Linked DNA regions of Homo sapiens: all the other regions are linked to region 2. Evidence: fine-mapped expression QTL. A gene starts in region 2. Each other region holds a variant in brackets. All regions are shown on one strand. Distances are from middle to middle. Region 1 overlaps SLC24A2 (solute carrier family 24 member 2). Region 2 holds the start of SLC24A2 (solute carrier family 24 member 2). Region 3 overlaps SLC24A2 (solute carrier family 24 member 2).

The links. PIP is the estimated chance that this variant, and not a neighbour inherited with it, causes the effect.
Region 1: its variant is fine-mapped to the expression of SLC24A2 in neural progenitor cells (Aygun 2021, PIP 0.95).
Region 3: its variant is fine-mapped to the expression of SLC24A2 in cerebellar hemisphere (GTEx, PIP above 0.99).

What each region holds. Positions count from the first base shown.
Region 1 is chr9:19,680,545-19,688,730 of GRCh38, forward strand. All of the region lies in intron 2 of SLC24A2 (solute carrier family 24 member 2), which reads right to left. Among named protein-coding and RNA genes, the nearest start is that of SLC24A2, 100 kb to the right of the region's middle. The variant C/CAGA (reference allele first, on the strand shown) is at 4,168.
Region 2 is chr9:19,785,221-19,793,406 of GRCh38, forward strand. It overlaps SLC24A2 (solute carrier family 24 member 2), which reads right to left and starts at 3,817. Exons shown (of 11, transcript NM_020344.4): 1 at 3,665-3,817; 2 at 717-1,799. The coding sequence starts at 1,646. LOC124902128 (a long non-coding RNA gene) reads left to right here and starts at 3,939. Exons shown (of 2, transcript XR_007061432.1): 1 at 3,939-4,058; 2 at 5,705-5,840. RefSeq lists an enhancer at 2,733-3,380 and a silencer at 7,938-8,138.
Region 3 is chr9:19,729,448-19,737,633 of GRCh38, forward strand. All of the region lies in intron 2 of SLC24A2 (solute carrier family 24 member 2), which reads right to left. Among named protein-coding and RNA genes, the nearest start is that of SLC24A2, 55 kb to the right of the region's middle. The variant C/T (reference allele first, on the strand shown) is at 3,369.

The DNA.
Region 1 (8,186 bases), 100 kb before region 2:
AACAATAATGCTTTAACGCCACTTTCTTAAACATTATGAGAAATGCAGATAGTTCTATAACATATATATATATATATTCATAGCTAACTTTATGAAAGTATATATTTCATTTTGGGGTCCCTTACCTCTACAGTCTTTCCCATGACTCAGATTTACTTATTTTAAGGCAAAGATTCATGGCTTCCAAACATTTGAAAACTCAATTTCACAATGTTGAGAAGTTCACAACTAGTGACAGTTATTTCTTTCTAATCAAGAAATGATCAGACATTTATGCTGACTTTAAACTCAAAATATATACCAGAGTTGTGTGTGTGTGTGTGTGTGTGTGTGTGTGTGTGTCACAATGCACTCAGAATCTGACCACTTCTGGAGGCCTCTACTATTACCACCTGCCCGATAAGTGCAATAGCCTCTGGCTTATTGGTCTCCCTGCCCTGTCTGCCTTCATCCCAGCTTGTTCTCAACACAGCAGCCAGAGTGACCCTGCACAAAATGTTGTCAGAATATATTTCTCCTCCACTGAAAGCCTTCCAAATGGCCCCCTATCTCAGAGCAGAAGTCAATGCCCTTATAGAGAGACTCCAGATCTACAACTACCTGCTTCCAATCTTACCTCTCTGACCTCACCTGCCTTGCTTATGTCTCTCCAGCTGGAGAGAAAGGTATCCATTATTCTCTCTGCAATGCTGTTTACACTAGCTATCCACATAGATCTCTGTTATCTCCCTCCCTTCCTTCAAGTCTTTGCTCAAATATCACCTTTCTCAGGAAGGCTTTCTCCGGTCCACCTTATTTAAAATTGCAACCTCTCTGCACCGCAGAACTCCCTATCTCTTTTCTCTCCTTCATGCTTTTCCATAGCCCTTCTCATCTACTAACATCCTATCTCATTTACTTATTTTGTTTATACTATGGCTCCCTCTTCCAGAATGTAATCTCCACAAGGGCAGGGAACATTGTCTCTTTTGTTCCCTGCTGTAATCCCTAGCCTAACCCAGTTGAGGTGTGGGGGCAGTGCAGAAAGCAAACCACCCACGGTCCTGTGGAGGAACTGGGTCTCCCTGGGATTTCCATGTCTCCATCTTCTTTGCCCCTGGTTCATACTGCTCAGCTAAAAAAGGTTTTGGAGGAAAAACATTCTTTATGCAGCACAATCCATAAAAATAAAGCAGTGGGCAATAATAGAGCCCACTAGTAGAACATTAGCAGGCTTGGCTGTCATCTTTGTTCTTAGTTAACATGAGCATTTCAGAGACATATTGAGGATCTATAGATTAGTGAGTGGCAAAATCATTTGCTTTCATTCTCTAGAGACTCATTCAATTAACCTTTATCTAAGAAGCAGTATATTATGTTCGCAGAATATTTGAGAGAGGTGTAACAAACACTAGTTTGCAGAAACAACTCCTTCATGTAACAGAAATAGGAACTGATTGATGGGTTCTGCCAGGGTGATTGATCGTCCTTTCTTCTGTCCAAATTTGCTAGCTTGATTTTACGTTGACATTTCTTATGCAGTTCTCTCTGCCATGGGTTAATGGGAACTGGGACCTAGAGAGCCTCTGAAACTCATTATCTTGCATCATGGATGTGCTTTATGTGAACATTTTTTCCAGAGCTAAGATTCTAACTATAACAATGCTCACCTGCAGTGATGAACATCCACAAATGTTCCCTGGGCCAGGAGTAAGAGTCTCAATGTCTAAGGCAGCACACGTGAAATGACATTGAATGTTTGTTTTGGTGCTGATAGTAGACGGTTGCATACAGAAGTACAATAACTGAGAATACAACCTGGGCCCTTCTGTAAGCCCAACCGGGAGAAACATTACCTTAAATTAAATTGCTAATGGATAGTAGCAGGAATAAAGATGCCAGCAATAGCAACCCTCACCTTCAGAGCTCTTTTCCCCTTCTGTAAATTTTAACTAAAATAGTAAAGGGGAAAAACTTCAACACCAAACCACAGAAGTGGAACATCTCAATCTCTGTGGCCATGGTATGCAGAAAACCCTGAGGAAAGGCCTGTTTCCATGGCAAAGTATAACCACTACATTATATAGTGTGACACAGCAATAATACAGGGAGCAGGAGAAACACAGCGTTAAGTAGAGGTGACCTCTAAATACACAAACGTACTGTAAGAAATATCCATAGGAAATATCATGGCATCTTTAATTTGGGATTAAACAGATGTATTTAGTTGATATTAAAATACATTCATCATGAAAACTAATTTGTCTTTATTCTAAGCAAGTTATGGAAGAGGTGGAAAATTTTTGAAGGTAGGGCCAAAGGGAAACCCCAGAAAAGTCATGACTTACATCCATTTTCCATTCTTTTTACTTCATGTATTGATTAGCTGTACTGTCTCAGAGTGAGATGGATTAAAAAACAAAACAAAACTGAAAGCAGCTGTTTCAAAAAAGGTTTAGAGTAAAAAATACACATTATGAGTGCAGTAAAGCTAGGGACCCACCGTGAAAAATCAGCTACACAAATTTCATTCCTAGCATAATGCTGATGCAAAATTTCAGTGCAGGGCATTTGCCAAAGGGAGAGGAGGGAAAGGTTTACTATGAAATCCTTTGAAAGGACAGTACATTAACTATTGAACACTTACTGTATGCTAGACGCTGTAAGTGCGGCGAGGTAAAACTCTGAAAGCAAATCCCCCACAGGCAAGATGCAGTTTAGTGGGACAGAAGGATGAACCTGAACAATTATAAAACTGATAGCAGGAAACACAGGTCTTTGCTCCTAGAGTGCTACTGAAGCAAAGGGAAAGGAACTATTGCCTCAGCATAGGTTTCTGGGAGATTACATGGATGTTGAGCGGTATCTTGAAAGATGGAGGAGCTCATTGTCTTTATGGAAATGGAAGAGTCCAGAAAAGGTGATGGGCATTTGGTCTGACCACACCTAGCCATTGTGATCAGGTGATCTTCATTTCACATTCAGTGTCCTGCCTGGAAATTGTGCTCTGAACTTTTTTTTTTTTTTCAGTTTCCAAGAAACATAAATTTATTTTTTCATGAAATGTGTGTTCAACCAAACCTCACTAACACAACAATATTTAGTTCATTTTCCCACTTATTTTAAATGGAGGCTTTCAACCAGAGCTTCTGAATTAGCAAGGACCGCTATACCACGTGATGAAAATCTAGCTAAGCATAAGCAGAACTGAAATTTTATATAGCTAGAACAGCTTTCTTGTGCTGAGATGGGAGCATTTAAAAACATTATTTTTTTGAGGCGGGGAGGAAACACTTAAAAAAGCTGTTGGTGATTTCATGGTTACCGGTCCTGGGCCCAGGGGCTCCACACCTCTTTTTGTTTCTCTTACTTCCTGGCAGTTCCTCCCTGTGTCTGGCTTTTCACCATCTCCCCTCCTGGGGAGTAGCCCTTGGAATACTATGGTTACAAGCAAAAGAAACTTCCTGCTTAATTTGGAAAGGGCAATTTATTGTAAGGAATGGGGAACTCACTGGATTGAAAGAAAATCAAGAATTGGGTTTAAAAACAGTAGACACAGGGTGCTCTAGGGGACCAGGCAGCAGGAACTGATGGGCAATCTTTTCAGGATGCCCCTGCAGGGCCAATAAGCTCCAACTTTTTTTTACTGTTTTGTGACATTTCATTCAAATTTCTGAGGCCTGGGAAAGAGACAGACAGTCCTCCTTGGACGATGTGGTTTGTTCTAAAAGAGGCAAGAATCCCTTCCCCCATTGGAAATCAGGCTGCTGCACTGAAGGACATCCTCTTTCCTCTTCAAGGAAGTTCTTCTTCTAGAACTAGGGTAACATCCTTAAAGCAAACTTCCATTCAGGACTCTTGATGATGCTCTTTTTGATCAACATGATCAAAACTAGTTTCCGTGATGATCAAAGAGAGATGGAGTGCTTTTCCTGAAGCATTCAGGACATGTGGCTGGGGAGAGCAGTACCTTAAAGACCCACACTACAAGTGAGCATAACAGCACCAAATAACTAAGGAAGGGGAAACCCCAGTCTATCTGACAGGCAAAGGTGACCCTTGAACATTTTAAGGGTTTCAGGGTAGTGAGTTTCATCTAGACTTGTTGATATCTGGAATTTGGGTCTTTCATTACGAAAGACAAATTGTGAAGAAAGTAGGTATATAAGAAACCTGGAAAACGCAACC[C/CAGA]AGATGACAAGATGGCAGCATTGCAGAGGTGAGTTCATATCTGGTTCTTGGTTGGGTTAACAAATTCACTATGTTTTGAGGAGAAGGATGCCTACTCTTACCACTCCTGTTCAACATGGTACTAATATTCCTAGCCAGAGCAAGCAGGCAAGAGAAAGAAATAAAAGGCATCCAAATAGGAAGACAGGAACTCAAACTATCTTTGTTTGCAGATGATATAATTCTACACCTGGAAAACAACACCCTCTCTCCAAAAGTTCCTATATCTGATAAATAACTCCAGCAAAGTTTCAGGATAAAAATTAATGTACAAAAATCACTAGCATTTCTGTATAAGTACTGCATGCTAACTGACTGCGCCACTGGAGCATGCTAAAAATCACCAGCATTTCTAAACACCAACAATGTCTAAGCTGAGAGCCAAATCAACAACACAATCCCATTCATAATAGCCACAAAGAGAAGAAAATACCTAGGAACACAGCTAACCAGAGAGGTGAAAGATCTCTACAATGAGAATTACAAAACATTGCTCAAAGAAATCATAGATGACACAAACAAATGGAAAAACATTCCATGCTCATTGATTGGAAGAATCAATATTGTTGAAATGGCCATACTGCCCAAAGCAATTTACAGATTTAATGCTATTCTTATCAAATTACCAATGACATTCTTCACAGAATTAGAAAAAGCTATCTTAAAAATTATATGGAACCAAAAAGGAGCTCAAATAGCCAAGGCAATCCTAAGTAAAAAGAACAAAGCTGGAGGCATCATGTTATCTAACTTCAAACTATACTACAAGGCTACAGTAACCAACACAGAATGGTACTGATACAAAAACACATAGATCTATGGACACATAGACCTATGGAACACAATAGAGAACCCAGAAATAAAGCCACCCCCAAACCATCTGATATTCAACAAAGTCAACAAAAAACAAGCAATGGGGGAAAAGACTCCCTATTCAAAAAATGGTGCTTGGATAACTGGTTAGCCATATGCAGAAGACTGAAACTGGGTCCCTTCCTTACTCCATACACAAAAATCAACTAAAGATGAATTAAAGACAAATGTAAAACCAAAAACTATAAAAACTCTGGAAGATAATCTAGGAAATACTGTCTGGACATTGGACTTGGCAAACATTTCATGATGAAGATGCCAAAAACAAATGCAACAAAAACAAAAATGGACAAATTGGACCTAATTAAACTAAAGAGTTTCTGCACAGCAAAACACACTATCAACAGAGTAAACAGACAACCTACATAATGGGAAAAATATTCACAAACTAAGCATTCAACAAAGGTATAATATCCAGAATCTATAAGGAACTTAAATTAACAAGCAAAAAACAACCCTATTAAAAAGTGGGCAAAGGACATGAACAGACACTTTTCAAAAGAAGACATACACATGGCCAAGAAGCATATGAAAAAATGCTCAACATCATTAATCATTAGAGAAATGCAAATCAAAACCACAGTGGGATACCATCTCAAGCCAGTCATAATGGCTATTATAAAAAGTAAAAAATAACATGCTGGTGAGGTTGCAGAGTGAAGGGAATGCTTAGACACTGTTGGTGGAAATGTTAATTAGTTCAGCCACTGTGGAAAGCAGTGAAGTGATTTTTCAAAGAACTTAAAACAGAAGTAACATTTGACCCAGCAATTCCAATACTGGCTATATACCTAAAGTAATATAAATCATTCTACCATAAAGACACATGTACATTGATATGGTTTGCCTATGTCCCCACCCAAATCTCATCTTGAGTTGTAGTTTCCATAATCTCCACGTCTTGCGGGAGGGAGCCCATGGGAGGTAATTTAATCATGGGGCGGTTACCTTCATGCTGTTCTCATGATAGTGAGTTCTCACAAGATCTAATGGTTTTATAAGGGGCTTTCTTCCCTTTGCTCAGCACTTCTCCTTCCTGCCGTCATGTGAAGAAGGACATGTTTGCTTCCTCTTCCACCATGATTATAAGTTTTCCAAGGCCTCCCCAGCCATGCTGAACTGTGAGTCAATTAAACCTCCTTTCTTTATAAATTACCCAGCCTTGGGTATGTCTTTATTGGCAGCATGAGCATGAACTAATACACATGTGTATGTTCATTGCAACACTATTCACAACAGCAAAGACATGGAATAAACCTAAATGCCCTTCAACAGTAGGCTGGCTAAAGAAAATGTGATACATGTACACCATGGAATACCATGCAGCCATAAAAAAGAATGAGATAATGTCCTTTGCAGCAACATAGATGGAGCTGGAGACCATAATCCTATGTGAACACGGGAACAGAAAACCAAATACCACATGTTCTCACTTATAAGTTCAAGCTAAACATTGAGTACACATAGACACAAAGAAGGGAACAATAAACACCAGGGCCTACTTAAGGGTGGAGAATGAGAGGAGGGTGAGGATCAAAAAGCTACCTATTGGGTACTATGCTTATTACCTGGGTGACAACATAATCTGTACACCAAACCCATGACACACAATTTATGTATCTAACAAATCTGCACATGTTCCCCGAACCTAAAATAAAAATCAAAAAACAAAACGGAACAAGTTCACTGTGTTTGGGGTATGTAATGTATAAAATGGCATGTTACTCACCCCTTGTGTACATAGTCCTCAAGTTACTTAAAGTTTATGAGCCATTATGAAACTCTGTAGGAATTCGTGTGATAGACTCGAAGGTGAAATCAATTAGGGAGCAAACAGACAAATTCCTTTGTCCATTTGGGTGGTCCCACATATCAGGCCATAGCTATGACGGAAAATGTTTCCTGACTTCCTCACACCGTTCACATTCCTCATTCTGAAACATTGTACCAATGTGTTCCACGCCGTGTTTCTCAACTTCTTCTTGAGCTTCCAACTTTGGGATCATAGGACCACTTTCCTGTTTGGGGTTTTACCTTTACACTTGACTTTGGTACTTACTTGCTCTCTGGCTTTGACCTTTGCATTCCTCCTTGAGTCCAAATCAGATTCCTACCAGTTACTACTTTCAGCTGTCTTGATTAGCACCCCAAGTCATTAGGATTGGATTTGAACCCTATAATTTGGGTGACAAATGCTCCAGTCAGGTGCTGTGACCCCTCAGGATCCAGGCAATGACAAAGGTGCTTGCGTTACTTAAATGTTAATTCAGACAAGGCAGTTCAGTGGGGAGTCATCCCTTTGCCCCATGTGTGTCTTCTAGTGTTTATGCATAAACACTCTGTACTTTCCAGTAATTTATCTCTCTTCTTTTACCATTTCATTAAACTGCCAGGCAATATTTTTGTATGCTTTCGAAAAGCTCTGTGAAGGCTCCTCTCAGTGATGGGTGAAATGATTTCTAAAAATAACCTGCAAATCAATTTGTTCAGCTTGTAGCTTGTATAAATCTTGAAGTAAGGTGCTATTAAATGTGCAAAATAAAATATTTTAGTTTAGAATATGTTACTAATACCCTGCGAAAAGAGCCCTGGATTTAGAAAACAGGACTTGATAATCCTGGCTTTATGGATTACTGATTGTGTGGCTTTAGGCACATCATATAACTTCTCCAGAGCCTCAGTTTCTTTGATTGCAAAATGAGAGAATAACATCTCCCTCATTGTATTGTGGCAAAGTACAATGAGAAAACATGAAAATGGTGCCGATAGAAAGCTGGGTATCATTTGGTAGACTTACTACACATTTGTTAATCTTTGTTTGAACACAAAACCTAAAAGTGATTCCAAGTAGTCACTGGGGTATACGGAAAAGCTGTAGGAAAGTTTACTTTTTTAAAAGAGTTGCATAGAAGAAAAACAAATAAACAAACAAAGAAAAAGAAAAAAGCTGCATTTCAGTTAAGTTGATTAGAAAGAAAATTTCCTTAGAATGAGTTTTGTTTTTATCTTCATTTTAAGGACGCAAAGCAGAATGTGTTGCTGGTGAATAGCTTTCATTTAGGAAATGCACTAGGAGTGCATTTGCAGAAATTTTTGAATATTATTTT
Region 2 (8,186 bases):
GATGGCCACGATTGTTATTAAAACTCCCTCAAATTCTACTCTAAAAATAGTTGAAGTCATGTTTATTATGGTGTGCAAAGTGGGTCATTGTGATGCAGAGGCAGATGGCAGGGCTGGCCAATGATTCTCTTTACAATGGATGCTGATCAGTTCCTGGTCAAGTGACCTAAGACATGATTGTGTCAATCAAGAAAAACAGCCATGACAACAATAATGACAAGCCCTGCTGGGCTAGGCTGCTGACTGGAAGGTACAGCTACGGTGACACAAACTTTCTTCCTCAGACATCTCTAAAGAGATGGTTCTTTCTTGGTAATTGCCATGTGTTCATTTAAAAAGAAAAGGCCTTGCAACTTTCTAGGCACATACACACTTTCCTATGAAAATTAAATTGTTCACAAAATCATTATGCCCACTTTCAGAAAATAAGAGACAAATAACTGCTGAATTGGCTTTGGGAGGCTTATGTAACCTATATTTACAAGTGTTTTACTCTGAAGCAAGTAGCTGAGGAACTTAGTAAACATCTGCAAGAATACCCCAAAATTATTTTTTCCACTGCTATGTTAGTCTAGCTATCACAGAACTGCAGAATCAATCTGCTATCCACAAGAGCCCCAAACACCATCACATCAAAAGAACTGCAGATCTCAAAAACATAATAATTCAGAACCGTAGTCAAGAAAAGCATTAAATAAAAATCCACCACCACCAACCTTTGCTTGGGCTTCTGGTGCTGTCACCTTGACGACCTTATTGCGGTTTATCATTTGCTTCACCCATTTTTCTACTTGGACGTTGAATTTCATGAAAACCACATAGCAAAAATAAGCTGTTAAGAGAAGCAAGCTTTCCCACCACATGATGACATTATCCAGGAAAAATATGATCAGCATGATCAAGTCAACAATGTAGAAAGACACATCTCGAAAGAGCGGCCACCATGTCAGGTTTAAGATTTCTCTAGAAAACAGAGCACACATGCCAATAACAAAGAGGATGTTGAATACTGCTGAACCTACAATTGTGCCTATGCCAACGTTGCTGTGAGCGATAAATACCCCTATGAGAGATGTGAAAAGTTCTGGGGCTGACCCTCCTGCAGCCATGAAGGTGGCTCCAGCCACATCATCAGAGATGCCCAGTTTTTCAGTGATGACAGTCAAAGAAGGAACAAAGAACTCATCACAGACAATGGCTAAGGCTATGAACATGTAGATCATTCCAATGACATGCAGAATGATCGCACCTTTTCTTCTCTCCTCAAGGGAAAAGATGTCTTTCGGGTAGTCTCCTTGGGCGTGATCTGTACTATTCTCAGACTCGCCTTCCTTAGAAAGAGGTGGCTGTGGAGTATAATCCAGAATCTTGTCATTTAAATCTAAGAGAGTTCTCTGATGGTAACCCTGTGCTACCCTAGGGCCACTTACAACACTGGCCTCTCCTGTGCTCTGTGTATCTGTCTCAGAAAAGGCACTGATTGAAAATGAGACAGTGCTAATGGCTACCAGACCCATGAAAAGGCCTAAGACTCGAATTAACTTCAGTTTTTTCTTGACACTATAATGTCTTCTGCAGCCAGACAGTGACTCATCCAAACACCATTTCTCTAGGGAAGTGATGGTGGTGCTTTGTTGCAGATCCATCCTGGGTCTTCTGGTGGATATGGTGATCTTCCAACTTTAGACTCAACCAGATGGTTCTTTCATACTTTTCCTTACTTTATAGTTAACGATGCTTGTGGGGTACTTTCACAATCAGGGATTGTTATGCTTCACAGGAAACTTTCATCATTTATGCTTAAATAAAAATAAAAACGAGAATAAGTAAATCATAAAATCACGTCTTTTTAATAAAGATCTTTGCAGATATGATAAAGTCCTGTCCTGCAGCTGTGCGATCTTGGGTAAGTTACTTAACTTCTCTGTGCCTCAGTTTCCTCATTTAAAATGGGGACAATTACGGTACCTACCACCCAGGATTGTTTTCAAGATGAGTAAAAACATATGTAGCACTTAGTATGGGATGTGGCACTTATGAAGATGTATGTATAAACCCAAATAAATATTTTGGTAAATCCAATGTTAGGTGCAGAGAAGGCAGATGTAAGAATAAAAATTTTACAGGTGAAAATCTATCAGATTATCTCACCTTAAATCATGTAATAACCTTCCAGTGCTATAAAGGTACCTAGACTTCTTTCAGAACTGTCTAGGTACTTGGCAACTAACAATTATTCATTGTTTACTTTTGGTCCAATTACATAATTCTCAGTTGTAGGCAACTTTTTCTGATTTAACCTATCATTTGGAAAGTGAGTGATTCTTTAATTTAGTGATCTTTTTTCTGCACACATAATGATATCAGATCTTATTTTTCATAAAAAGTCTCTCCTTTATCAGATGCGGGAAAGTAGTCCTTTACAAATTTAAGTTTACAAAAAAAAATTCTGGTGACATGCACAAGCTGCCTTCCCTAAACATCTAGACATTGTTTTCAGCTAAATATTTTTTTTAAAAAAACAACCTTTAGTCATATTTAAAATAGGCAGCTTAGTAAGTCAAAGAACTCCCAATGCAGTGAAATAACAAGTAGGCTATTTCGAGAGACCACATGTGTATTTCATAAACAATACGCAAGTTGTAGCAATACCTCTGTCCACAAAATCTGCCCAAAATAGCCCCACCACTGACTTTAATAGGTTAGATATCCAAAGCAGAGTTTTCTTTCTCTATCCCACGGAGGAGATGGGTAAAATAGCCAGACTTGACAGCTGATATTCTGAAGAGTTCTCTTTTTAGTTTTTCTTTAAAAAGACTATTCTTTTCCATATCAACGATTTCATTTTGGAGGCAGTCGCTGAGATAATCTCAGGTGTAAAATAAGCTAATTAAACACACGCCACTTAAATACTGAGATTAGCTGGAGCTCAGGTTTTCAGAGCAAAGCAAGAGCACAAATCAACCCCGCTGAGTTGCTGCTACTCCTGAGATAACCCGACCCCATCACGGAGATTCCCAGGTGGCTGCGAACGTCAACGCTTAGCAGGAACGATTAAGCGATTCACAGCACTCAGGGGATTGTGTAAATGCCCGGCCCGGGCGACCAGCAGGGACAGATTCAACTCCCCGGGCGCAAAGTCATCTCCAGCCCGATCCTCGCTCCCCCTGAAAACCCACCGCTCGTCTCCCCGGGAGCTGCCTCCGTAGGAGAATGTTCGCCCCCAGCCGCGCCCCAACTTTGCCTTGCGTGGTCCCAAACTTTCCCTGGTGGATTAATAGGAAAATAAATCTAAAGGACAGACGCCCCACCTGTGAGCTTGGAGCTGGGTTGCATTTGGTGAGGCGCTTGGCCCGCATCCCCCTGAGTCGTTTGTAGGTGGCTGGGGAATGGAAGCGCCCCTCTGCGCGTCTCCCCCGACGGCAGGCCCTGCCCCACGCCCCCCATCCCAAGCCAAAAGCAAGGGTAGGAGAGGCGGGGGCTCCAAATCCACGCCCCGGAGCACAGAGAGTTGGCTAACTCCTAGCGGGGCCTGGGGCGCCCACATCCACGGCAGAGCCACCTGTGAGCCTGCAGAGCAGCAACGGGATGCGCGCAACCGGGATGCGGGGACGACCGCCACAGCGGCTACAGCGGCAGGCGGGGCGCAGCCGCCCGCACTTACCAGGATAAGATGGGAGGACGCGCACACGGCGGGGCCCCCGAGCGCGGCCCGCCGCTCCAGTCCGCCGGCCCTCCGCCTACCCGCTCTGAGGCCCGGGCTCTGGCTCGCACTGGCTGCCGCTCTCGCCAGCCGGGCTGGGTTCGGGAGGAGACTGAGCCGCTGTGAGCCCGGCGCTCCGAGTCTGGCGCTGCCCGGCCCCCGCCGGCCCCTCCCTCTGGGCTGTGCGCTGTGCGCTGGGAGCGGGGCCGCAGCGCGCTCAGCTCCCGAGTCCTTTGCTCCACGCCTCCTGGGCGCAGAGGCGACGCTGGCAGCCGTCTCTTAGGAGATTTCTCCGCAGTGTGGACGGGGGTCAGGATTTGCAGGCGAGCAAGGGCAGAGAGGAGAAATCGTACAGGTCGGTGACGCGCCTAATTCACAAAGCCTGAAAGTGCTGTCAACTTTGGGGTCATCTTATGCTGGGCACCGCCTCTCCAATTATCTGCAAAAAGTGATAGCAGTCGCGCTTTTCTTTAGGAGGCGATGTGATGTGTAATGGTGGAAAAGACGTTCAATGAAAAGGCACGGAGGCCTGCAGGACAGGCTGTTGGGGTCCAGGGTTTCTTGAGTGTTGGATTTGGATGCTTGGGACACTGCAGGGGCTTCAGTCTTGCAGGGTGACCTTTCATTTCATGGGTGATGAAAGTGAGACCCAAAACCCCGTGTCATTTTGAATCACTGACAGGCTTCGGCTTTTGGCCTCGGGATGTCCAGCCCAGTGCTCCTTCCTGTCCTATCTGGAAAGCAAGATCCCCTTGACCACAAGAAATAGAATCAGGCTTGTTGGGGATGAGAGACTAGAATCTGGGCCAAAGAATGGAAGACGGTGGTAAGACAAATTGGTAGTGAGGGAACCCCTTTTACCCAACCCTGTGACCACCAGCAAAGCTGCCAAGAGGTACCCAACTCGTGAAGCTCTGAAAGCTTTTCGCACATTTTCCCCTCTCCTTACCCTCCATCCTTCTGTTCTCTCCCCCATCCAAGAGGGTTTCTTCATGCCCTCCTTACAATGGGGGTAATGGGTATATCCTGAGAGCTCATGACCTCTGACTTAGAGTACAGCTCTGTAGTCAGACCTCTGGGCCTACTCATCAATAAGTAAAGGGAAGCCTAGGGAACTTAGAAATATTTTTCTTCCCCCCACCCCCCAATCAAAGCCAGGCATTCAAGACTCAACTTTTCTTTTTCTTTCTCCTTTCGAGACTGAATCTTGCTATGTTGCCCAAGCTTGTCTTGAATTCCTGGGCTCTAGCCATCCTCCAGCCTCAGACTCCCAAGTGCTTGCAGACTATAGGTGCCTGACTGAATTTTTTTATCTTTAACTTTTAATTTAGAAAATTTCAAACATATACAAATGTAAGAAAGTAGTATAATGAATCTCCATGGGGCCATAACCAGCTTGAACAATTATGAACTCATGGACAGTCATATTTCATCTATACCCCTTTTTCCTATGTCATCATTTTGAAGCAAATCCCAGAGCATCATATCATTTTATCTGTAAATATTTTCAGAAAGCAAGAAAACTATCAACTACCACTAGGGTTGTGTCAAGAAGGGGACAATTCAAATAGGCTGTCACTGACCAAAGACGGGCTAATTTGAGCATCAAAAAAAAAAAAAAAAAAGATAATCGCAATTGTTTAAAACACATCAAACATGATTATATCTATTAATTGATAATATTTTAAAAACAACTGAACAGATTGATTGCTTGATGGTTCAGAGGGAACCAGCTCATAATTTTCAAAACTGTTTTAGGAAAAGGAAAACAATTGTGCATTTATTTTGCCTTTTCTATACAAATTGGACCTCTGGGTAACCAATTAGGCTTTATTTTTACCCTGCCTTTGTCTACTTTCCTAGTTTAACAATCCTATTCTTCCCTGAGGCAATAGGTGCCTCTGGCTACATGGGGTGCGGAGGGGAATATCACAATGTCTAGAAGAGTTTTTCTTATGTTATCTTCTAGAATTTTTATGGTTTCAGGTTTTTCCCCTACAGCTCAGAGATGACCCTGAGTCTTGATTCGGTGAGAAGAGGAATGAGATCCAGATGAAGACCTCATGAGTCCATAGATTGTATTGGCTGGGATTTGCACTTGGTTGCACATAATAAAAATTCATTCTTGGTGATTAAACCAAACAAGAATTTATTTTTCTCATGGTAAAAAGAAGTCTGAAAGCAGACTGCCCAGGGTTTATAAAATAGCTTCAAGATGCTATCTGGGAACCCAGATCTTTTGATCTGTCTTTCTTAATGTATGGCTTTATCCTCATGGCTACAAAATGGTTTATTCTTTTGCATTACATCTGTGTTCCAGGCAGGAAGAAGGGAAAGAGTGAAGGGTGAAAGGCAGAAGGCCTCCTTGCTAGGCTTTGTCTTTTTATTTAGGAAGGGATTCTGTCAATGCTTCACTTACATTTCACTGATCACGACTTGGTCACAAGACATAGCTGCAAGGGAGTGTAAACAGTATTTCAACTGAGCACATAGTCATCTTTTAGAAAATCAGGGCTCTCTTAGTAAGGGAGAAGGGGGAGATAAATGTTGTGGGAGTGACTACTCCTACACAGTTCCAAAGCATCTCAATGAGATCCATATTCGACTCAAGATTTGACAGTTGACCAAGAACTTGGCAATTAATTGCCACAACAGTTGAGAAGGCTACAACTTCCATCCTGGTAGTAATGGAGAAAAGCAGGGCCTGTCATTTGTCCAAATCACACTACGTGGAAGCAGAGGAATTGAATAACAACTGTAGGTCTCCCAGATCCACAGACCTTATTGCCTAGTCATAAAGAAAGGGTAGCTTCAGGAGAAAATTTACTACCATCAAATGAGTTATTAAACAGTAGCATTTGCTAAGAGACTCAAGTAGATTAATCAATGGGTCTCTTTTTAGAAATTATTAAGGAGCTACTTCTTTATATTTGTAGATACTTGTGTAAGTATAAACATTAGTTGGCCTCATATTTACCCTTCTATTAGCTGTAAGATTGGTTTTAACATATAGTTTATAGGAGTAATTGGTATTACCAGTTAAGAACAATGGGCTCTTTTTGTTTTGAAGAGGAGGCTTTCAAAAATCAGTAATGAATTTTAAAAATCACTAGGTCATACCTAAGCTAATAAAGGATTTTTAATGTAAAACTGCCAAAGGGGTGCTAGTTAATAGTTTTGCTAAGCACCCATATAATTTTCACATAGTTATCTAGGCTGGCATGATTTAAAATAGGTTAGGAATATCCCCTTGCCCCATCTGAAATAACATCCCCAGGGGGCCACAGTGTCTACAATTCCACCATTAGAAATTCATTGCTTTGGCTTTATATTTTATAATTTCAGGAATTTTTAAAGAAGCAAGTAGCTCTGGAGTCATAGTAATGATTAGCAATTTTTTATTGTTTTTGACTTGACATTCAGTCTCAAGGGAAAAAAATTCTAGTAAACTGTCATGAGCAGAAGGTGAAAGAGATGGTTGAGGGCCAGGTGTGGGTGTGGTGGCTCACGCCTTTAATCCCAGCACTTTAGGAGGCTGAGGTGGATCACCTGAGGTCAGGAGTTTGAGACCAACCTGGCCAACATGGTGAAACCCTGTCTCTACTAAAAATACAAAAAAAAAAAAAAAAAAAAAAAATGCTGGGTGTGGTGGCAGGTGCCTGTAATCCCAGCTACTTGGGAGGTTGAGGTAGGAGAATCACTTGAACCTGGGATGCGGAGGGTGCAGTGAGCCGAGACGGCGCCATTGTACTCCAGCCTGGGAAACAAGAACAAAACTCCATCTCAAAAAAAAAAGATAGGATAGCTGAGTCAGAAAGTTGTGGGCAACCCAGGGACAAAATAAAGTACAGTACTCATACTTACTTTGTTAATCATTTCTTTCTTCATTCTCTCCACATATACAACCTTTTTTCTGACTTATTAAAATCTCTAGCTTCTCTGTTATTAAAATTGCAGGCAGTCAGCACACTTATGAAGTATTCAATGTGCACAAAACCAGTAGTTCCAAACCTCGACTTTAGCTAAACAAAAGAACTGGGGTTATTTTTAAAAGACTCCTGACAATGACCCTCACTCTCCTCCCATTACTGTGAGCCCCGTGAGAACAAAGAGTCAGTATCATGCATTTCTCAGCATCTAGCCCTGCGCTTGGCATTTTGGCTAACACATATCTGTGGAGTGAATTAAGATGATGGCAAATACAGTTACTTAAAGGAAGGTGAGTCAATCAGGAGGATGTAGGTTATGTTATGATAACAAAAAGTTCAAAAATCACAGTGGCTTAAAACAATGAAGGTTTTTGTTTCTCACTTGTGCTACCTGTCCTTTGTGAAGTTTGCTGTGTCATCCTAACTCCTAACCCCAAGCTGGTCACTATCTAGAACACTGCCATTTGCTGTTGCAGGGAGAAAAGATGCATGGCAAACCTAGAACTTGCTTTTAAAGCTTCAGCTTGGAAGTGGTGCATCACTGCTGCTAGTAT
Region 3 (8,186 bases), 56 kb before region 2:
TGAAGATATGCACTAAACCTAGGTGTCCAATAACAGGTGAATGGATAAAGAAAATGTGTTGTACATACAAAATGGAATACTATTCAGCCATAAAAAGAATGGAATCCTGTCATCCACAGCAATGTGGATGGAACTTGAGGATAAGTGAAATAAGCCAGGAGCAGAAAGTTAAACAGCACATGTTCTCACGCATATGTAGAAGCTAAGAAAAAAAGGGGGTGATCTCATAGAAGTAAAAAGAAGAAAAGAGGATACAAGAGGCTGGATAGGGAAGGAGGAAGGGAGGGCTAGAGAGAGATTTATTAAAGGATATAAAATTAGAGCTAGAGACCTGGAATAAGTTCTAGTGCTCTATCTCAACTATAGAATGCCTATAGTTAAAAATATGTTAGATAGTTTCAAGTAGCTAGAAGAAGGATATTAGACATTACCAACACAAAAAAATAATACATGTTTGAGATGATGGATATGTTAATTACCCTGATCTGATTACTATACATTATTATATGGATCTAAACATCACTAGGTACCCTATGAATATGTACCATTATCATTTGTCAATTGAAAACGTAAAATTAAAAAAAAATAGAAAAGTACTGCCATTTAAATGAATGAATGCCAGGTCACTTTACCCAAGGCTGCAGGGTACCCACAGCAGCACAGGTGTCTCCCTCACTTCCTTCAGGCCTCTGAACAAGTGTCACCAAAGAGAAGGTACAGAATGCAGTGAGAACCATGACAATATTTCATTGCCTTTAATGTAGAATGAGTCTTTGGAAAATATTTGAATGTGAAAATTTATCTTGAAGGTAACTTGGCAATATGTATCAAGATCAGTAATGTGCAGGCTTTTGACACAGTAATTGCATTTATCCTACAGATAAATTACATAGTTATATTTGTAGGATAAATAATTACATAAATATATGATAATTATTTAACGTATATATTTATCTGTCCATGTATACAGAGGTAGAATTACAAAGATGTTCAATGTTATATTTTTGTGATTATAGAAAACAACCTAAATTGCCCACCAGTAGGCGAACAGTTAAATGACTTCACAACCTTAAGAATGCTAGGCCATTATTTCACAAAATGAGGTAAGTTTATACATAGCAACATGAAAACATATCTAACTTATATATTAAATTTAAAAAGCTAGTTGTAGAATTTTATATCTAGTTTAAGAGTCATTGTTTTATTGCTTAGAATACACACATATGTATATTGACAATGGTTTTCATCCCTTTATTGCCTGAATTGCTAAAATATGAATATATTACTTTTGCATTAAAAATTTAAACATGCTTAAAATATTTTTCGATGCATATATTTTCTAAGCATAAATGACTACATTTAAAGTCACATTTAATAGTGTTTAAATCATCACTCCTACTCCTTTCTACACTTAAATCCTATAACTCTTAGGTTTTTTTTTTTACCTTTGATAATAAAATTTTTTGACAATGGAAAAAAAGATATTCATCTTTCAAGCACCTGACCTACTTAAAACTGTCACACTTTTCAGTTCATTTTGCTTCATAGTCCATTTGTTCAAATGCTAAGTGATAATTGATTTGTCTTGAGTTCATCTTTCAAAATAAGCCAGCATAAAACAAACTAGTATACAACATAAGGCAGCTGATAAATCAAGTTTAGCAATTCTTCTCATTTATATATTGTCTCGATATCAAGCCCCAAATAAACTTTAGAAGGTGGTCTAGCTGGTGGAAAAAATATGAATTTTAGAATTATGATTTATGTTTGAATCCTGTCTCTGTCATAAACTACTAGTATAACTTATCTTCTCTGAGCTTCAGTTTCTCCATCTGTAAAATACATTTCTTGTGAGGATTATACATAATGCTATGGACTGAATGTTTGTGTACCAACCCCACCCACATTCAAATGTTGAAGCTCTAACCCCCAATGTAACTGTATTTGAAGATAGTATAAAGAAGTAATTTAAGTTAAATACAATCATAAGGGTGGGGCTTTGATCTAATATTTGTGTCCCTATAAAAAGAGACACTTAAGAACACTTGTTTCTCTCTCTCTCTCTCTCCGTGTGTGTGTGTGTGTGTGTGTGTGTGCATGTGTGCACATGCACACAGGCTATACAAGAAAACAGCAAGAAGTTGAACATCTATGAGCTAGAAGAAACCAAATCAGTGGATACCTTGATCTTGGACTTCCAGCCTCCAGTACTGTGAGACATAGATTTCTGCCGTTTAAGCCACCCAGTCTGTGGTATTTTCTTATAGCAGCCCAAGCTGACTAATACATGTAGCATAGGTAAAACATCAAATATAATACCAAGTACAGGGTTGACACCAAATAAATGGTGACTGCAGGCTGCCCACACTTTTCTTTGCACAGCAACCTGTTAGCAGGACCTCACACATACTGGAACTGTGTTCTCACTTTGCCTGGCAGCGTAACCTATACATTGTGAGCCAGTTTGTCCAACCACTTGAGCAAATATTATCTCTTTTGTCTGTGAAATGAGTATGACAATATCTACCAGGGTTGTGAGGATTTGAAAACATGGAGGAGAAGCACTGAGATTGGGTTGGCACATGGCAGGTGCTCAAAAATGATACCTATTGCTGTGTTTTTTATGGATGTCCAATATAAGACCTTAAAGAACTCCTTGTTTTGTTAAAAAAAAAACTCTTCCTGGTGAACTTTTAGACAGAACTGCAAAAGGGCAGGTGCAAATATTTGTCCAGCTATGGTCAGCCCAGCCCCTGACCCCTAGTGGGCACATTATGTCTGCTGCCAAAACTTTCCAAGTGGTTTAGCCCCCCTGGCTGGCATTGAAGAGGCAGAGGTTGTGGGATTAATTTCCACAGTCTGATTAGCTTTCAGAGAAAACTCTGACTTGTAGCTTGGAATGTCATAGTGGCCTGAGACCACCTCTTGAAAAAATACTAGCAATACTGGCTATTAAAGAGCATGAGAACCCCAACCCATGCAACTCCATCAGGGCTGGCAGCCTTTCTTATTTTTTTAAATTAATTAATTTCTTTTTGATTGACAAATAATTGTGTATATTTACGGGGCACAGTGTGATGTTGTGATCTATGCATAAATTGTAGAAAGATTCAATCAAGCTAAGGAACATATGCAATGTCTTAATGAGGCTTTGGCAATGTCAGTCATACATTAGTATATAATCCTAACGTCGCAATCTGAGAGCTACCTCTCCCCCGTGTCTGTGCTGGTTCTCCCTCTGCAGCCACTTTGCCAATCACATTTCAAATGCAGAACCCAGGCCTGCCTGTCTCAGGGCAGACCATGAAACAGAGACACTGGCTGCCAGGGTCACTTTTGATTGCAGGGCCAGCTGCCCTCCCATCTGC[C/T]TGTCAGGCTGGAGAAAAGGCTGAGAATTGAAAATGTGAAAATAATGCAGCCCCAGTGTAAAAAAAAATCCAGATTTTTCAATTGCCATTCTGCGAGTAAAACCTAGGAATTAACCTGTGGCCTTTTTGTTTTATTGTTTCATAAATGAGTAATAGCTAGAGGGAGGTATCCCTTAGACCATTTCAGGCCCAATTGCTACAGAGAAGAAAATGATACTATGAAGTCACATAAGGATGACACATTTTAGAAGTCTTAAGATGTGACTCTTTTTTTTTTTTTTAAACACGCTGGGCATGTGAGCTACCTTCTGGATGGTATCTTGGTCCAAGTTTCCAGAACTACTGCCCTTTGGTGCCTGAGTCTCAATGATGGGGAGAACAGGGCACTATAAATTCAGAGGCTCTGGATTTAGAATTTTCTTGGAACAATTCGGTATACCTGTTATTTGTGAATGCATTTCACATCATTTGGATATTGTCAGAACATTACTGACCTAAGGGTATCAGAATCAAAGCTCTTGATTTTCTTCAGCCCAGAATGCCTCACCAGCAAGATGATCTTCTTTCCGTTCTCTTACAATATCCCCTTCAGTCATCCAGCCCATTGCCTCCTCACACCTTTAAGTGAAAACAGGTCTGATTTCCAATGACAATCTGTGAAGGAAGCCTACAGAGAACGCAGCTTGCTGCACCCAGCATGAAGACTAGCACAGCACTCACACCTCGCTCAGCACCCAGGATTTGCACAGGTGTTCAGGAAGCATTGAATGAATGAAAAATCATGAATAGAGGAAATCTGCCCACTTAGTTATTTCTGGAGTGATCCTGGTATCTCTTCCAAGTTTTCTTGTTATAAAAATAATCTTACTTGTGGTTTGCAGAAGTTCTCCAATGTCCTCTGGACCCCTGATTTTCTCATTCTTAAGACTCAATGGTTGTCTCTGTTGGGCACCTCTGACCTACGTTTGTGGTTTAACATATATTTATTGAGTGCCTTCTCTGGGCCAAACCTTTGTGAACAAGGTAGAAAACTCCCGTACTTTTGAAGCTTATATTCTAATGCTACAGATGGGCAAAAACAAATAAATACTCTTATTTCAGGTAATAAGTCCAGGAAGAAAAACAAAACAGAATAAGGGAATGGAAAAGAAAGGGGTGGGGTGAGGTTACTTTAATTATGATGATAGAGGCAAGTCTCTCTGAGGAAGTAACATTTAAGCAGAGACTAAATAGAACAGTTTAGGGATGTTCTTAACTACATGCAGGGATGTAGTTAGAATTAAAATATGTGTAGCCAGTTTTCCCAGCACCATTTATTAAATAGGGAATCCTTTCCCCATTGCTTGTTTTTGTCAGGTTTGTCAAAGATCAGATAGTTGTAGATATGTGGCATTATTTCTGATGGCTCTGTTCTGTTCCATTGGTCTATATCTCTGTTTTGGTACCAGTACCATGCTGTTTTGGTTACTGTAGCCTTGTAGTATAGTTTGAAGTCAGGTAGCGTGATGCCTCCAGCTTTGTTCTTTTGGCTTCGGATTGACTTGGCAATGCGGGCTCTTTTTTGGTTCCATATGAACTTTAAAGTAGTTTTTTCCAATTCTGTGAAGAAAGGCATTGGTAGCTTGATGGGGATGGCATTGAATCTATAAATTACCTTGGGCAGTATGGCCATTTTCACAATATTGATTCTTCCTATCCATGAGCATGGAATGTTCTTCCCTTTGTTTGTACCCTCTTTTACTTCGTTGAGCAGTGGTTTGTAGTTCTCCTTGAAGAGGTCCTTCACATCCCTTGTAAGCTGGATTCCTAGGTATTTTATTCTCTTTGAAGAATTGTGAATGGGAGTTCACTCATGATTTGGCTGTTTGTCTGTTATTGGTGTATAAGAATGCTTGTGATTTTTGCACATTGATTTTGTATCCCGAGACTTTGCTGAAGTTGCCTATCAGCTTAAGGAGATTTTGGGCTGAGATGATGGGTTTTCTAGCCATATGTAGAAAGCTGAAACTGGATCCCTTCCTTACACCTTATACAAAAATTAATTCTAGATGGATTAAAGACTTAAATGTTAGACCTAAAACCATAAAAACCCTAGAAGAAAACCTAGGCAATACCATTCAGGACATAGGCATGGGCAAGGACTTCATGTCTAAAACACCAAAAGCAATGGCAACAAAAGCCAAAATTGACAAATGGGATCTAATTAAACTAAAGAGCTTCTGCACAGCAAAAGAAACCACCATCAGAGTGAACAGGCAACCTACAGAATGGGAGAAAATTTTTGCAATCTATCCATCTGACAATGGGCTGATATCCAGAATCTACAAAGAACTCAAACAAATTTACAGGAAAAAAAAAACCCCATCAACAAGTGGGCAAAGTATATGAACAGACACTTCTCAAAAGAAGACATTTATGCAGCCAAAAGACACATGAAAAGACACTCATCATCACTGGCCATCAGAGAAATGCAAATCAAAACCACAACGAGATACCATCTCACACCAGTTAGAATGGCAATCATTAAAAAGTCAGGAAACAACAGGTGCTGGAGAGGACGTGGAGAAATAGGAACACTTTCACACTGTTGGTGGGACTGTAAACTAGTTCAACCATTGTGGAAGTCAGTGTGGCGATTCCTCAGGGATCTAGAACTAGAAATACCATTTGACCCAGCCATCCCATTACTGGGTATATACCCAAAGGATTATAAATCATGCTGCTGTAAAGACACATGCACATGTATGTTTATTGCGGCACTATTCACGACAGCAAAGACTTGGAACCAACCCAAATGTCCAACAATGATAAGACTAGATTAAGAAAATGTGGCACATATACACCATGGAATACTATGCAGCCATAAAAAATGATGAGTTCATGTCCTTTGTAGGGACATGGATGAAGCTGGAAACCATCATTCTCAGCAAACTATCGCAAGGACAAAAAACCAAACACCGCATGTTCTCATTCATAGGTGGGAATTGAACAATGAGAACACATGGACACAGGAAGGGGAACATCACACACTAGGGCCTGTTGTGGGGTGGGGGGAAGGGGGAGGATAGCATTAGGAGATATACCTAATGTAAATGACGAGTTAATGAGTGCAGCACAACAACATGGCACATGTATACATATGTAACAAACCTGTACGTTGTGCACATGTACCCCAAAACTTAAAGTATAAAAAAAAAGAATTAAAATATGTGATAACAGTAACGCAAACAGTGGGAGAGATTTAAGTGAAATTAAAATATTCTGAGATTCTTAGTACATGCTGTCTGGAAAATGGTAAAAGTACTCATTTATATTGGGCTTTTGTAAGTTAAGCATGCATTATATGTTCTCTACAATTTTAATAACGGAATAATAAAATAGGGATGGGAAACAAAATATAATAATAATACTTGATTAATCCAAAGAGTAGCAAAAAAAGGAGAGAAAAATAATATAGTCTCAGTAAGAGAAAACAGATGATGGATTTAAACCCCAAATATACCCAAAATTACATCAAATGCAAATTGATTAAATCTAATTAACTGATTATAAACAAAACAGTGCAATCAGTACCCAATCACCTGCAGCTTACAAGAGATACATTTTGAATATAAGAGCTTGAAAATGTTGCAAGGATAGAAAATTCTAGATAAACATTAACCAAAAGAAGTCTGGTTTAGCAATACTGAAATTAGACAAAGTAGACTTTAAAGCCATAAGAATTTCTAGAAATCAAGACCAGGCCAGGCATGATGCATCATGCCTGTAATGCCAGCACTTTGAGAGGCTGAAGTGGGGAGATCACTTGAGGCCAGGAGTTCAAGACTAGCCTGGGCAACATAGTGAGACCCTCGTCTCTAAAAATAAAAGTAAAAATAAAAATAAAACTAGCCAAGTGTGGTCGTGTGCACCTGTAATCTTAGCTACTCAGCAGGCTGAGGCAGGAGGATCCCTTGAGACCAGGAGTTTAAAATTATAGTAAGCTATGATCATGCCACTGTACTTCAGCCTGGGTGAAAGAGTAAGACCCTGTCTTAAAAGAAATAATCTTATACCATGCAAGAGTTAACCCATCATGATGATGTAATAATTCTCAATTTATAATGTCTAATAACATAGCTTCAAAAAAGACAAAGCAAAAATTAACTGAACTAAATGGGAAACAGACAAATCTGCAAATATAGTGGGAAATTTTAATACACTTCTGCCAGGAATTGATAGAGCAAGCAAAAGAAATCAGTATTGAACAAATAATATTTGAAGAACATGATGGACAAGGACATCTGCTACCTTTTCCTCTTTGCAGCACTGCACTAAGAACTTTGCCAGACACATCTAGGCCCATTTGCGGGGACAGGGGCATGAAGACAGATAGAGGTCCACATTCTACATATCTGAATGTGTTAATTTAATAAATTTAAGAAGCTAAGAAAACTGTCAAAATATATTTTCTTCTCCTTCCTTGACAAATATATCTTCATGGTAACAAAATAAAATTATGATTATTGTTTATATATGACTGAAAATTAGCAAAATGTCAAAGATTATTATATTTAATTATTATGAAACATGCATGGGTGTTCTGTTGATGGCCATGTGTGAATGATGGTGTCATAAAACAAAGGCATGAATAACCCACCACTATTACATATTTATTTTACAAAGTATTTCCCATGCCTTTATTTTAGCAAATTTATCTCGTTACAATAAGATATCCATATAATCGGTACACTACTAACAGTAATGATTTAAAAGGTTAAAAAATAAAATGCAATTGCATTCAAGGTGTATACATTTTGATATATTTTTATAAAAAAT